Regions from separate parts of the Homo sapiens genome. Here region 1 is linked to region 2. The links come from fine-mapping of genetic effects on gene expression. A gene starts in region 2. The other region holds a variant in brackets. All regions are shown on one strand. Distances are between the middles of the regions.

Region 1 (5,380 bases), 64 kb after region 2:
ACCTGTTTGTGTCTCCTTTGGGACCTCACTGAATTCTTCACGCTTGTTCTGTTGACTTTTCCTCCACCCAGCTATCATCCAGTGTCTTCCTTTCTTTACTGTTAAACTTCAATGTGTGATCTTTGCCTTCCTCAAATCACTGAGGTCCACTCCATTTTCAACAGTGATACATCAAGGATTTTATCTGAGCTGCAGACAGCCTTTCTCTTTTCCTCCATGCTCCCCACTTTAATTTCACGCCTTCGCATTGGTAGTGGCTTTCTCCACAGCTGATCCTCACACTGCAGTCAACTTCATAATTCCCTTCCTATTGTGCTGATAACTTCTCTATTTCCTTCACATACTTGCTTCCCTCTCCCAACCCTTATGCTTGGTTTTATCTGAAGAGTCGCTGGTTAGCCTGTCTGCTTCTCTTTCTGCACTTCCTTAGCATAGTAAAGCCCATCTCGGCCGGTCCCTGCTTCTCCAGCCACCTGCAGGGCCTTTCCATAATCACTTCAAACTTCACCCTGTGTTAAACTAAACTGGTAACAGCATCTGGCCCTGAAATTGGCTCCCCTTTCTGATGTCTTTCATTCTCCCAGTCTCCTAGCTTAAAACCTGGGTGTCACCATAAGCAGCAGAAACAGCAGCCTCACCATAATCCTCAAAGACAGGTTGGAGTTTTTACCCTTATGAAGAAAACAACGATTAAGTGAGTCGTCACACCACTAAGAAATGACAATGCTTTGGCCAGGAGTGGCGGCTCATGCCTATAATCCCAACAGTTTTAGAGGCTGAGGCGGGAGAATTACTTGAGGTCAGGAGTTTGAGACCAGCCTGGCCAACATGGTGAAACCCCGTCTCTACTAAAAATACAGAAATTAGCCAGGTGGGGTGGTGCACACCTGTGGTCCCAGCTACTTGGGAGGCTGAGGCAGGAGAATAGCTTGAACCCAGGGAGGTGGAGGTTGCAATGAGCCAGGATCACGCCACTGCACTCCAGATGGCATCAAAGTGAGACTCCGTCTCAAAAATTTTCATCTCTTTCCAGGCTCCTCTGGCTCTTCTTTTTCATCTTCGTGTTCCTATAATGAAGAAACAGATTCTGTTATTTTTCCTTGAGTTGCCTTTTAGATCCATAGCTTTATTAATGTAGTTTGTTTATGTCACCTCTCAAATGGGTTAGCACTGCCCCAGGAATTCTCACAAAGGGCAGGTTGGTTCTGGTGTACCCCCAAAACTTCCTGGTGCTCCCATCCACAGTAGTGCCAGTTGTTACTTTTATTTGCTTAGCTCAGCCTCTCACTCGTCATTAGACCTTGTATATTCTCTTCGAATCTGATTTTACCTGTGGACATCAGACAGAGTTTTTGATGTAGGCAAAGGAAGCTTTTGCTGATGGAATCAAAATGGGATTCAAAAAAGGTAGTGGGGAAGAGGGGAGTAGTAGGTAGCTTACAGAACACCGGGAAAGCTACAGAATCAGAACTGGAAAATTGGCAGGAACAGGGGAGGCTCAGTGGCTTCCAGAAATGCAACCACAGGCAGGCCAGAGAGAGCTAGTTCACTGGGGACATTACCCCACTGGACACACGGTGCCTTCAGCAGGGCTTTGCTATAGCCAGCTGTATACCTACTGTCTCTGCTGCCTGCAGTGGAGGAGGGTTTTCTGTGAGCTCTGCTTCTCTAAGTTGTAAGTTCTCAATTTAGGAATCAGAAATGGAGTCTTTGGAACCGGGTCAGGTGCCTTCTTGTTAGTGGCAAGGAGGCTGGGAAGATGAATACCTGGCATTTTTCAGTGTCCCCCAACACTCATAAGATGGAAGAATTCCCTAAACTTGGAAGGGGATTCAGGATAGATATCAAAGAAAGGGGCAGTTGTCCACTACACCCTTTTCCTCCTTTATTCAAAGCAAATTACCTTAACCTTTATTTTTTTAGAGAAAATAACAGTTGCCACCTAGGAATACCTAAATCTTCTCTAGAGCAATCAGACAAATCTGCCTATGTCAGTATCCATCTGAGATTTCTTCCTTTTACCATAAAGGAGTAGAATCTTCTCCAGTGCCAGAGTAATTCTTCCACTGAGTCTTTGGCCCTCTTCCCTCCTGTCTTCTCAGGCATTTGTTGCTATCAGCCTGTCTTCTATCCTCAGTCTCTCCTTAGCCAAATGGTCCCATTGGCTTTTCAACAGGCTCGAGTTGCATCCATTTTCTGTGGATATTTACACTGGATGTTTTCTCGTCCCTCTCCTATAATCACCCTGGCTCTCTACTATTTCATCATCAGACTTCCTGAAAGAGGTGCCTGTGTTCCAGAGGTTTAGTTTTTTTTTAATTTACTAATTTTATTAATTTTTTTGAGACAGAGTCTCGCTCTGT[C/T]GCCCAGACTGGAGTGCAGTGGTGCGATATTGGCTCACTGCAACCTCCGCCTCCCAGCTTTAAGCAATTCTCCTGCCTCAGCCTCCTGAGTAGCTGGGACTACAGGTGTGCACCACCATGCCCGGCTAATTTTTGTATTTTTAGTAGAGATGGGTTTTACCATGTTGGCCAGGCTGGTCTTGAACTCCTGACCTCAGGTGATCTGCCCGCTTCGGCCTCCCTAAGTGCTGGGATTACAGGCATGAGCCACCGCGCCCAGCCTTATTTTTTCACATCCTTCCCAACCCACTCTTGAATCCATGGTAGACCAGCTTCCAGTTCAGTTACTTCTCAGAAGACACTGTTGCAGGAGTCAAGAGTGACTGACTGACGAGTCAGTGGTCAGCCTTTGTCTTCTTCTGTCAGCCACATGCATGCTGCTGACCATTTTCTTATTCTTGCTTCTAGTGACACACACTTCTCTGGTTCCTCCTGCCCTCTTTTCTGTGTCCTTTCCAGGCTTTTCTTTCCCTGCCTACCTCTTAAATGGTGGTGCTTCTCTAGAGCTAGGCTTTTTTTATTATTATTAATTTCTTATTTTTATAGTCAGTCTTATCTGTGTTGTGGATTCACATATTACCTAATGTGAATGACTTACTCATTAGTATTTGTATGCCACACATCTTCCCCTGACTCTAGATCAGGAGTTGGCAAGCTACAGCCAAATTTGGGCTGGCAGAGTTATATTGGAACACAGCCATGTCCATGCATTTTCATATTGTCTGTGGCTGTGTTTGTGCTAACGTGGCAGAGTTGAACAGTTGCAGCAGAGACTGCGTGGCCCACAAAGCCATGTTTTTGTGTATTGCTTGGCCCTTTACAGAACAAGTTTTCTGACCCTTGCTGTAGACGTTTTCCTTGTAGATGATTTTCCCTTAGACTAAATAACCTAAAACGTAGATGTGTAACACTGAGTGCCTTATTTTTCCCCTCAAACTTGATCTGCTTCCTACTCTAGTGAATACCACCACCATCTATACAGTTGCACAAACCAGAAACCTTGACACTTTCCATGCTCTGTGTCTGATTCGTGACCAGGTCCTGATCTTTCTGCCTGAATATTTCTGAGTTCTCTCTCTTCTGTCCCTGCCATTGTATCTCAGTCGACGCTACTGTCATCCTTGCAGTGGTTCCCTCACTGGGCTGCCTACATCCACTCTTGGCTCTGTTTCCATCTGCTTTCCACCCTGAAGCCCAGGCAGGGTTTCCATGGTGAGAATTTCAACAGGTGACCCCACCTGCTGAACACAGTGTCTTACGTCGTCTCAGGATGAAGACTATGCTCCTCGGAGTATCCCGTAAGGCTTGCGTGATCTTAGGCCTCTTTCCTCTCTAGTCTCTCTGTGTGGTCTATTCTCAATTCACTACCTAGGCACACTGATTGTCTGTTTTCCGTTGCTAGAACTCTCCAAAGCTTAGCGGTGTAAACAATGTGTTTTGTTTTGTTTTTGCAATGGAGTTTCGTTCTTGTCGCCCAAGCTAGAGTGCAATGGCACAATCTCGGCTCACTGCAACCTCTGCCTCCCGGGTTCAAGCGATTCTCCTGCTTCAGCCTCCCGAGTAGCTGGGATTACAGGTGCATGCCACCACACCCAGCTAAATAATTTTTGTATTTTTAGTACAGATGGGGTTTCACCATGTCGCCTTGGCCTCCCAAAGTGCTGGGATTACAGGCGTGAGCCACTGCTTTTTTTTCGTGATGTGTGTGTTGTCTGGGCCTGGCTGGGCAGTTTTGCTCCTTGTGGTGTCTGCTGGGGCTGGGACTTCCAAATGGCTCCTTCGCTCACATATTTGTCACCTCAGCTGCAATGGCAGGAGCAGCTCTGGTGGCTAGGCATCGCTCCCACTCTGTGTCTCCAGCAGGGTAGCTGGACCTCTTTATATTCAGTTCTCCAAGAATGAGCTTTCCGGCGGGTCGGGGGTCGAGGGGGCGCAGGCGGGTCATGTCCTGACATGCAAGTGCTCATCCAACCTCTGGATGCATCAGGCTTGCTAATGTTCACCAGCCAAAGCAAATCACATGACCATCCCTGCTGGGGTGGAAGGGGCCTGCATCGGGCATATGTAGGGAGGGTTGGTTGACCGGGGGTCACCCGAGATAACTGAGTACCACACTGACCTTTTCAGTCTTTCCTGCTTATCACCAGTCCTTTTGGTTTCAGGCTATTGCACATGTTGTGCCCTTTACACAAAATGGTCTTCTTTCTTCTCTTTATCTAGATAACTCTCTCTCCCTTCACATCTCAGTTCATGTGTCTTCTTTATTTATTTTTGAGACAGAGTCTTGCTCTGTCACCCGGCAATTATAGATCACTGCAGCTTTGAACAACTGGGCTCAAATGATCCTCCTGCCTCAGCCCTCTAAGTAGCTGGGACTACAAGCACCTGCCACCACACCTGGCCAATTTATTTTTAAATTTTTATAGAGGTGAGGTCTTGTTATGTTGCCTGGGCTGGTCATGAGCCACTGCACCTGGCCCATATTGTCTTTTTTTTTTTTTTTGAGACGGCGTCTGTCTCTGTCCCCCAGGCTGGAGTGCAGTGGTGTGATCTCGGCTCACTGCAACCTCCATCTCCTGGGTTCAAGTGATTCTCCTGCCTCAGCCTCCCAGGTAACTGGAATTACAGGTGCCCACCACCATGCCCAGCTAATTTTTGTATTTTTAGTAGAGACATGGTTTTACCATATTGGCCAGGCTGATATCGAACTCCTGACATTGTGATCCACCTGCCTCGGCCTCCCAAAGTGCTGGGATTACAGGCATGGGCCACAGCGCCCAGGCCCATATTGTCATTCTTAAAGGAAGTTACCTCCCCAAGTATTTAGATCCCCTTATTTTAGGTTTTCATAGCACATAAATAGTACTGCTTACAGTTAGGATTTTAATCTGATTTGATTTTTATCTTCTCCAGTAGATTTTTAAGTTACAGGAACTTGTTTCTATAGTAACTGTCATGTAGAAGACATTCAGTAACTG
Region 2 (5,380 bases):
TGATCTTGGCTCACTGCAACCTCTGCCTCCTGGGTTCAAGCAATTCTCCTGCCTCAGCCTCCCGAGTAGCTGGGATTACAGGCGTGCACCACCATGCCCAGCTAATTTTTTTGTATTTCAGTAGAGATGGGGTTTCACCATGTTGGCCAGGATGGTCTCAATCTCCTGACCTCATGATCCACCGGCCTCGGCCTCCCAAAGTGCTGGGATTACAGGTGTGAGCCACTGCGCCCGGCTGATTGAGGTAAACTTTCTGCAGAGCGAAATGCATAGATCTTAAGGGTTCAGTTCAAGGAGTCTTGACAAATGTGTAACAACACCCTGATCAACATAAAATATTTTCATCACCCCAGAAAGTTCCCTTGTGCCCAATTCTAGTCAAATCTCTACTCCCTATATGCAACTACTGTTCTCATTTCTATCCTTCAGATTACTTTTGTCTCTTCTTGGATTTCATATAAATGAAATCACGAGGATGTAAACGTTGTGACTGGCTTCCTTTGTTTAACATATTGTTTCTGAGACTTATCCATGTAAAGCGGATTAGCAATTCATTGTCTTATTGCTGGGAGCATTATTATATAGATAGATCACAATTTTTTATTCATTCTTCAATTTGATGCACATGTAGGTTGTTACCTAACACCTACTAGGTTGTTATAAGCTTTTGGCTATAACGAATAATGTTGTCAAAAACATTCTTCTGCAAGCTTTTTTTTTTGAAACATGTTTTCATTTATTTTAGGTAATTACCTGGGGGTGAAATCGCTGAATCATAAAGCAGCTATATTATAACTTTACGAGAAACAGTTTCTAAAGTGACTGTACCGTTTTCATGCCCACCAGTAATGTATGAGAATTCCAGTTGCTCCACACCCTTGGTCTTTGCCGTTTAGTGTTTTCGAGCTTTTACATGTTAGCCATTCTCATCAGTATGAAGTGGTACCTCATTGTGGGTTTAATTTGCATTTCTCTGATGACTAATGATGTTGAACACTTTTCCAAGTGCTTATCATTTGTGTATCTTCGTTTGTTAAGTGCTCAAGACATTTACCCATTTATATTTGTTAGATATATGTTGACAGAAACAATAGTTTTCTGCACATTTTATGTTGAAGGTAATTGATATTTACTGACATGTTAAAAGGGCTTAAAATAGAAACATTTATGCATTTTGTCAATGAAAAACGGAATGACTGAAATATGAAAAAAGTCTTGCCTGTGTAATGTCAGATAACCTTAAAGTCAGATAACTTTATATAAAAATAACTGTAAATTTAAATAACTAATTTTTGTCTTATCCATTATGTTATTATATGTCAAGCTCTTTGAAGTTGGGACCCTGTTTTCTCTATTGACTAAGAGGCAGATCTTTGTGTTTAGTAGCGAAGAAAACCCTATGTCACTGATCTAGTTTGTCTCAAATTGAGCCAGGAACCAAATCCACACCATGCATGCCGAGGTGAGGTTTTCTGTTTCTCTATTTAGCAATGGATGCTGTCAGAAATACAGAAAAGACAGACACAGGGACTATTTTTGAGTTTGCACATGGGAGCACATGCATTGTGCAGGAGGCTCTGCATCCTGGAGTCATCTTGGGCACTTGGCTGTGAGGGCTGGCGTGGGCATCTTGGTTTTAGCTGAATCCTAGCACATTGCTATAGGTACCTCTAAGGCAGGAGAATAGGGCCTGGAGGCAGGGAATCCAAAAACTCCCTAGAACCAAATCAGATAGAAACACTTCAGCTATGACAGGAAATATCCTCTTCATTTACATAGGGAGTACACCAAGTAAATAACTTTGTAACTTCATTTTATCCTCTTCAGTTACATAGTGTGTACACCAAGTAACCAATTGAAACCTCTATAGGTATTTAAACCCCAGAAAATTCTGTAACCAGCCCCCCTTGAGCGGCTTGCTTGGGTCTGCCCCCACCCTGTGGAGTGTACTTTTGCAATAAATCTCTGCTTTTGTGGCTTCATTCTGTCTTTGCTTTGTTTGTGCGCTTTGTCCAATTCTTGGACCTGGACACCCTCCACCGGTAACACTTCTCACTCCTGGCCTTACGTCTAAATCATTCTTGTGTTTTCATGACTTATTTTTAATGCAGATGTCCAGAACCAATTTCAGACCTACTGTGTCAGTCTCTTTGTGGATGGTGCCCATCATGCAACGTTTGGAAAATAATCTAAAGTGATTCTGCTGTGCACCTTCTGTGAACTGGTTTATGCTCACAGGCACGCCTGATTTAGGGTCCTGGGCAGACCAACCTCCAATCAGGAATCGATGAAGCTGGTGTAGATACTACATTAACTTTTAACGAAGGCCTCGTTTCTCCTAAAAATAAGAGACCAGGTGGGTTCTATCTAGGCAGGGTTGGTGGCAGGAACCCAAGGGAAGCTGAGCTGCACCAAGCCGGGCTGGGATCCCCCTCTCTGCGGCCGCGCGCCCGGCTCCGTCGGCGCACGCGCACGTAGGGGCCGGCCGGTCCTGTGCGCACGCATCGCACACGCCGGCGCCTTCCTTTGGGAGCCCGGGCCGGTGGCGCGGGCGCTCGGCAAATGGAGTGGGTGCTCGCGGAAGCGCTGCTCTCGCAGAGCCGGGACCCCCGGGCCCTGCTTGGGGCGCTGTGCCAAGGGGAGGCATCCGCGGAGCGCGTGGAGACGCTGCGCTTCCTTCTGCAGCGGCTCGAGGACGAGGAGGCGCGCGGCAGCGGGGGCGCAGGCGCGCTCCCGGAGGCGGCGCGCGAGGTGGCTGCAGGGTACCTCGTGCCACTGCTGCGGAGCCTGCGCGGACGCCCCGCGGGCGGCCCGGACCCCAGTCTGCAGCCTCGCCACCGCCGGCGCGTGCTGAGGGCGGCGGGCGCGGCCCTGCGCTCGTGCGTCCGCCTGGCCGGGCGTCCGCAGCTGGCGGCCGCGCTGGCTGAGGAGGCGCTGCGCGATCTGCTCGCCGGGTGGCGCGCGCCTGGCGCCGAGGCTGCCGTGGAAGTGCTAGCAGCCGTCGGGCCATGTTTGCGGCCCCGCGAGGACGGGCCGCTACTGGAGCGCGTGGCGGGGACCGCCGTCGCCCTGGCGCTGGGCGGGGGCGGGGACGGGGATGAGGCCGGGCCTGCCGAGGACGCGGCGGCGCTGGTGGCCGGGCGACTGCTGCCAGTGCTGGTCCAATGTGGCGGGGCGGCGCTGCGGGCCGTGTGGGGCGGGCTGGCCGCGCCTGGGGCGTCCCTGGGGTCCGGCCGCGTAGAGGAGAAGCTGCTGGTCCTGAGCGCCCTGGCCGAGAAGCTGTTGCCCGAGCCCGGCGGCGACCGCGCCCGCGGCGCGCGCGAGGCGGGCCCGGACGCCCGGCGCTGCTGGCGCTTCTGGAGGACGGTGCAGGCGGGGCTGGGCCAGGCGGACGCCCTGACGCGCAAGCGAGCGCGCTACCTGCTGCAGAGGGCGGTGGAGGTGTCGGCGGAGCTGGGGGCCGACTGCACCTGCGGGCCCCAGGAAGGAAACGGTACCTGCCTCTTTGCCCCCCAGCCTAGTGCTACCTACTTGGCTGCCCCAGAGGGGAGTCTTCCTGCTTCTAAAAACTAGCTTATCGGGGTCGTCACTCCGATCCATGCAGAATTTGGTTATTCCGCGTTGCTCCCCTAAAGCCTGAAAACCTTTGGAACCCCTTCTCGAGGGTGTTCTTTGAAGTCACAAATCACTGCGGTTGGGAACGTTCTAACCCAGAGCCGGTGGAATACAGCACCCCTGGAATAGTTTAGGAAGATAATGGAGCCCGTGCAAGATTTTACAGACCCAAATCTGCACTATATCATGGTAGATTCAACCCAATAGAAACGGTTGATATCTATCAAGTTGAAAGAAAAATTATTTGTTATTTATCTGTACTGACCAGTGAATTAGTGAATTGAGTGTTGAGTGTTAGAATTAAGCGTCATAGAGGCCATCACACTCTTCTGAAATTTCCCCTGGTAATTAGGAACAGGATTTACTAATATTTGTTAAACATGTTTCTTAAGTCGACCTTTTGAGTGTATTTTTGCCATTGATTTAATAGAATGAATCAGATTTTATTTTTTAACTGTTTGAGCTTTGCTCCCTACTATGTGCAAGAGTAATGAAACAGCAAGGCCTCCCTTCAAGTTGTTACGTTACTGTTGATTGGTTTGACTTCACTCATGTTAAATTTGGGTTTAAACTGTCAAGTACAAAGTAGATTGACTCAAAATTGTCTCAATAGAATATTTCTACTTTTTCAACGGTAGCTGACCATTTATTACAGGTAAAGGATTTTTGTTTGGCTGAAGTTATGAGGTTATATTTTCAAGTAATTTTAAAACATTAGAGAGTAAATATTTGAACAGTCCACAGATAGGTGTGATCATCCCTGAGAGTTTTCACTGGAAAACATTTTTTAAATCATCAAAAATTAAAACATTCATTTATTTACATGAGTCTGTTATTTTGCAGTTTTGTTTGTTTGTTTGTTTGTTTTATGGAGTTTCGGTCTTGTTGCCCAGGCTGGAATGCAATGGCACAATCTCCGCTCACCGCAACCTGCACTTCCCGGGTTCAAGCGGTTCTCCTGCCTCAGCCTCCAGAGTAGCTGGGATTACAGGCATGCGCCACCATGCCCCACTAATTTTGTATTTTTAATAGAGACGGGGTTTCACCGTGTTGGTCAGGCTGGCCTCAAACTCCTCACCTCAGGTGATCTGCCCGCCTTGGCCTCCCAAAGCGCTGGGATTACAGGCGTGAGCCACCGCGCTCGGCCAGTTATTTTGCAGTTTTAGGGATAAGCAATGGTGCTTCCATGCTTCCTGCAACTCCCATTTCCTCTGTTACAGAAAGCAAATCCTGTGGCCTCTTAACGGAATATTAGGGGATTTACCCCTATGTCTTGACATAGTATATCTTAGTTATATCATAAAATATATTGTCACAGTTAAAATTTTGGTTAAATGTGTGTTCAGCATTTATAAAATTATGACTGTAAATGCTGCTTGCAGGTGATCTATGTAGGAAACTGATCATTTTTCTCTTCCTGCAAGTTTTTCATATGATTTTGACGTTTTAAAATGTGTTCGGTTCTTTCTATACTTACCACGAATTCCTCCTTAAATTCTTAACCAGTTGACTAAATCTTTCCTCTACAAAATCAGATCATCAGAGGTTTTCCTGAAGAAGTTTCTCCCAGAGTCCCCTTACATGCCCAGATGTCGCAGGTTTCTCCCTGTGCCTGGTGCACAGACCTCACGCTTACCCCGGGATTCCCTTCACCTGGGTGTTCTGTTGAGTCTCATTTCCTGTAGTTCATATCTTCCTCTTTTTTGCTTTACTCACTTGTGTCAGTGCAGTGCATTCTCTAGCAGTTTCCTGAAATAGGATTTTT

What was found. PIP is the estimated chance that this variant, and not a neighbour inherited with it, causes the effect. A credible set is the group of variants that fine-mapping cannot tell apart.
Region 1: its variant is the best candidate, but not a certain one, in a credible set for the expression of TARBP1 in whole blood (TOPMed, PIP 0.58).

The regions. Positions count from the first base shown.
Region 1 is chr1:234,411,947-234,417,326 of GRCh38, reverse strand. The region is part of intron 22 of TARBP1 (tRNA guanosine 2 -O-methyltransferase TARBP1); the gene reads left to right. Among named protein-coding and RNA genes, the nearest start is that of COA6-AS1, 41 kb to the right of the region's middle. The variant C/T (reference allele first, on the strand shown) is at 2,364.
Region 2 is chr1:234,476,286-234,481,665 of GRCh38, reverse strand. It overlaps TARBP1 (tRNA guanosine 2 -O-methyltransferase TARBP1), which reads left to right and starts at 2,487. Exons shown (of 30, transcript NM_005646.4): 1 at 2,487-3,493. The coding sequence starts at 2,563. RefSeq lists silencers at 2,371-2,560, 2,591-3,390.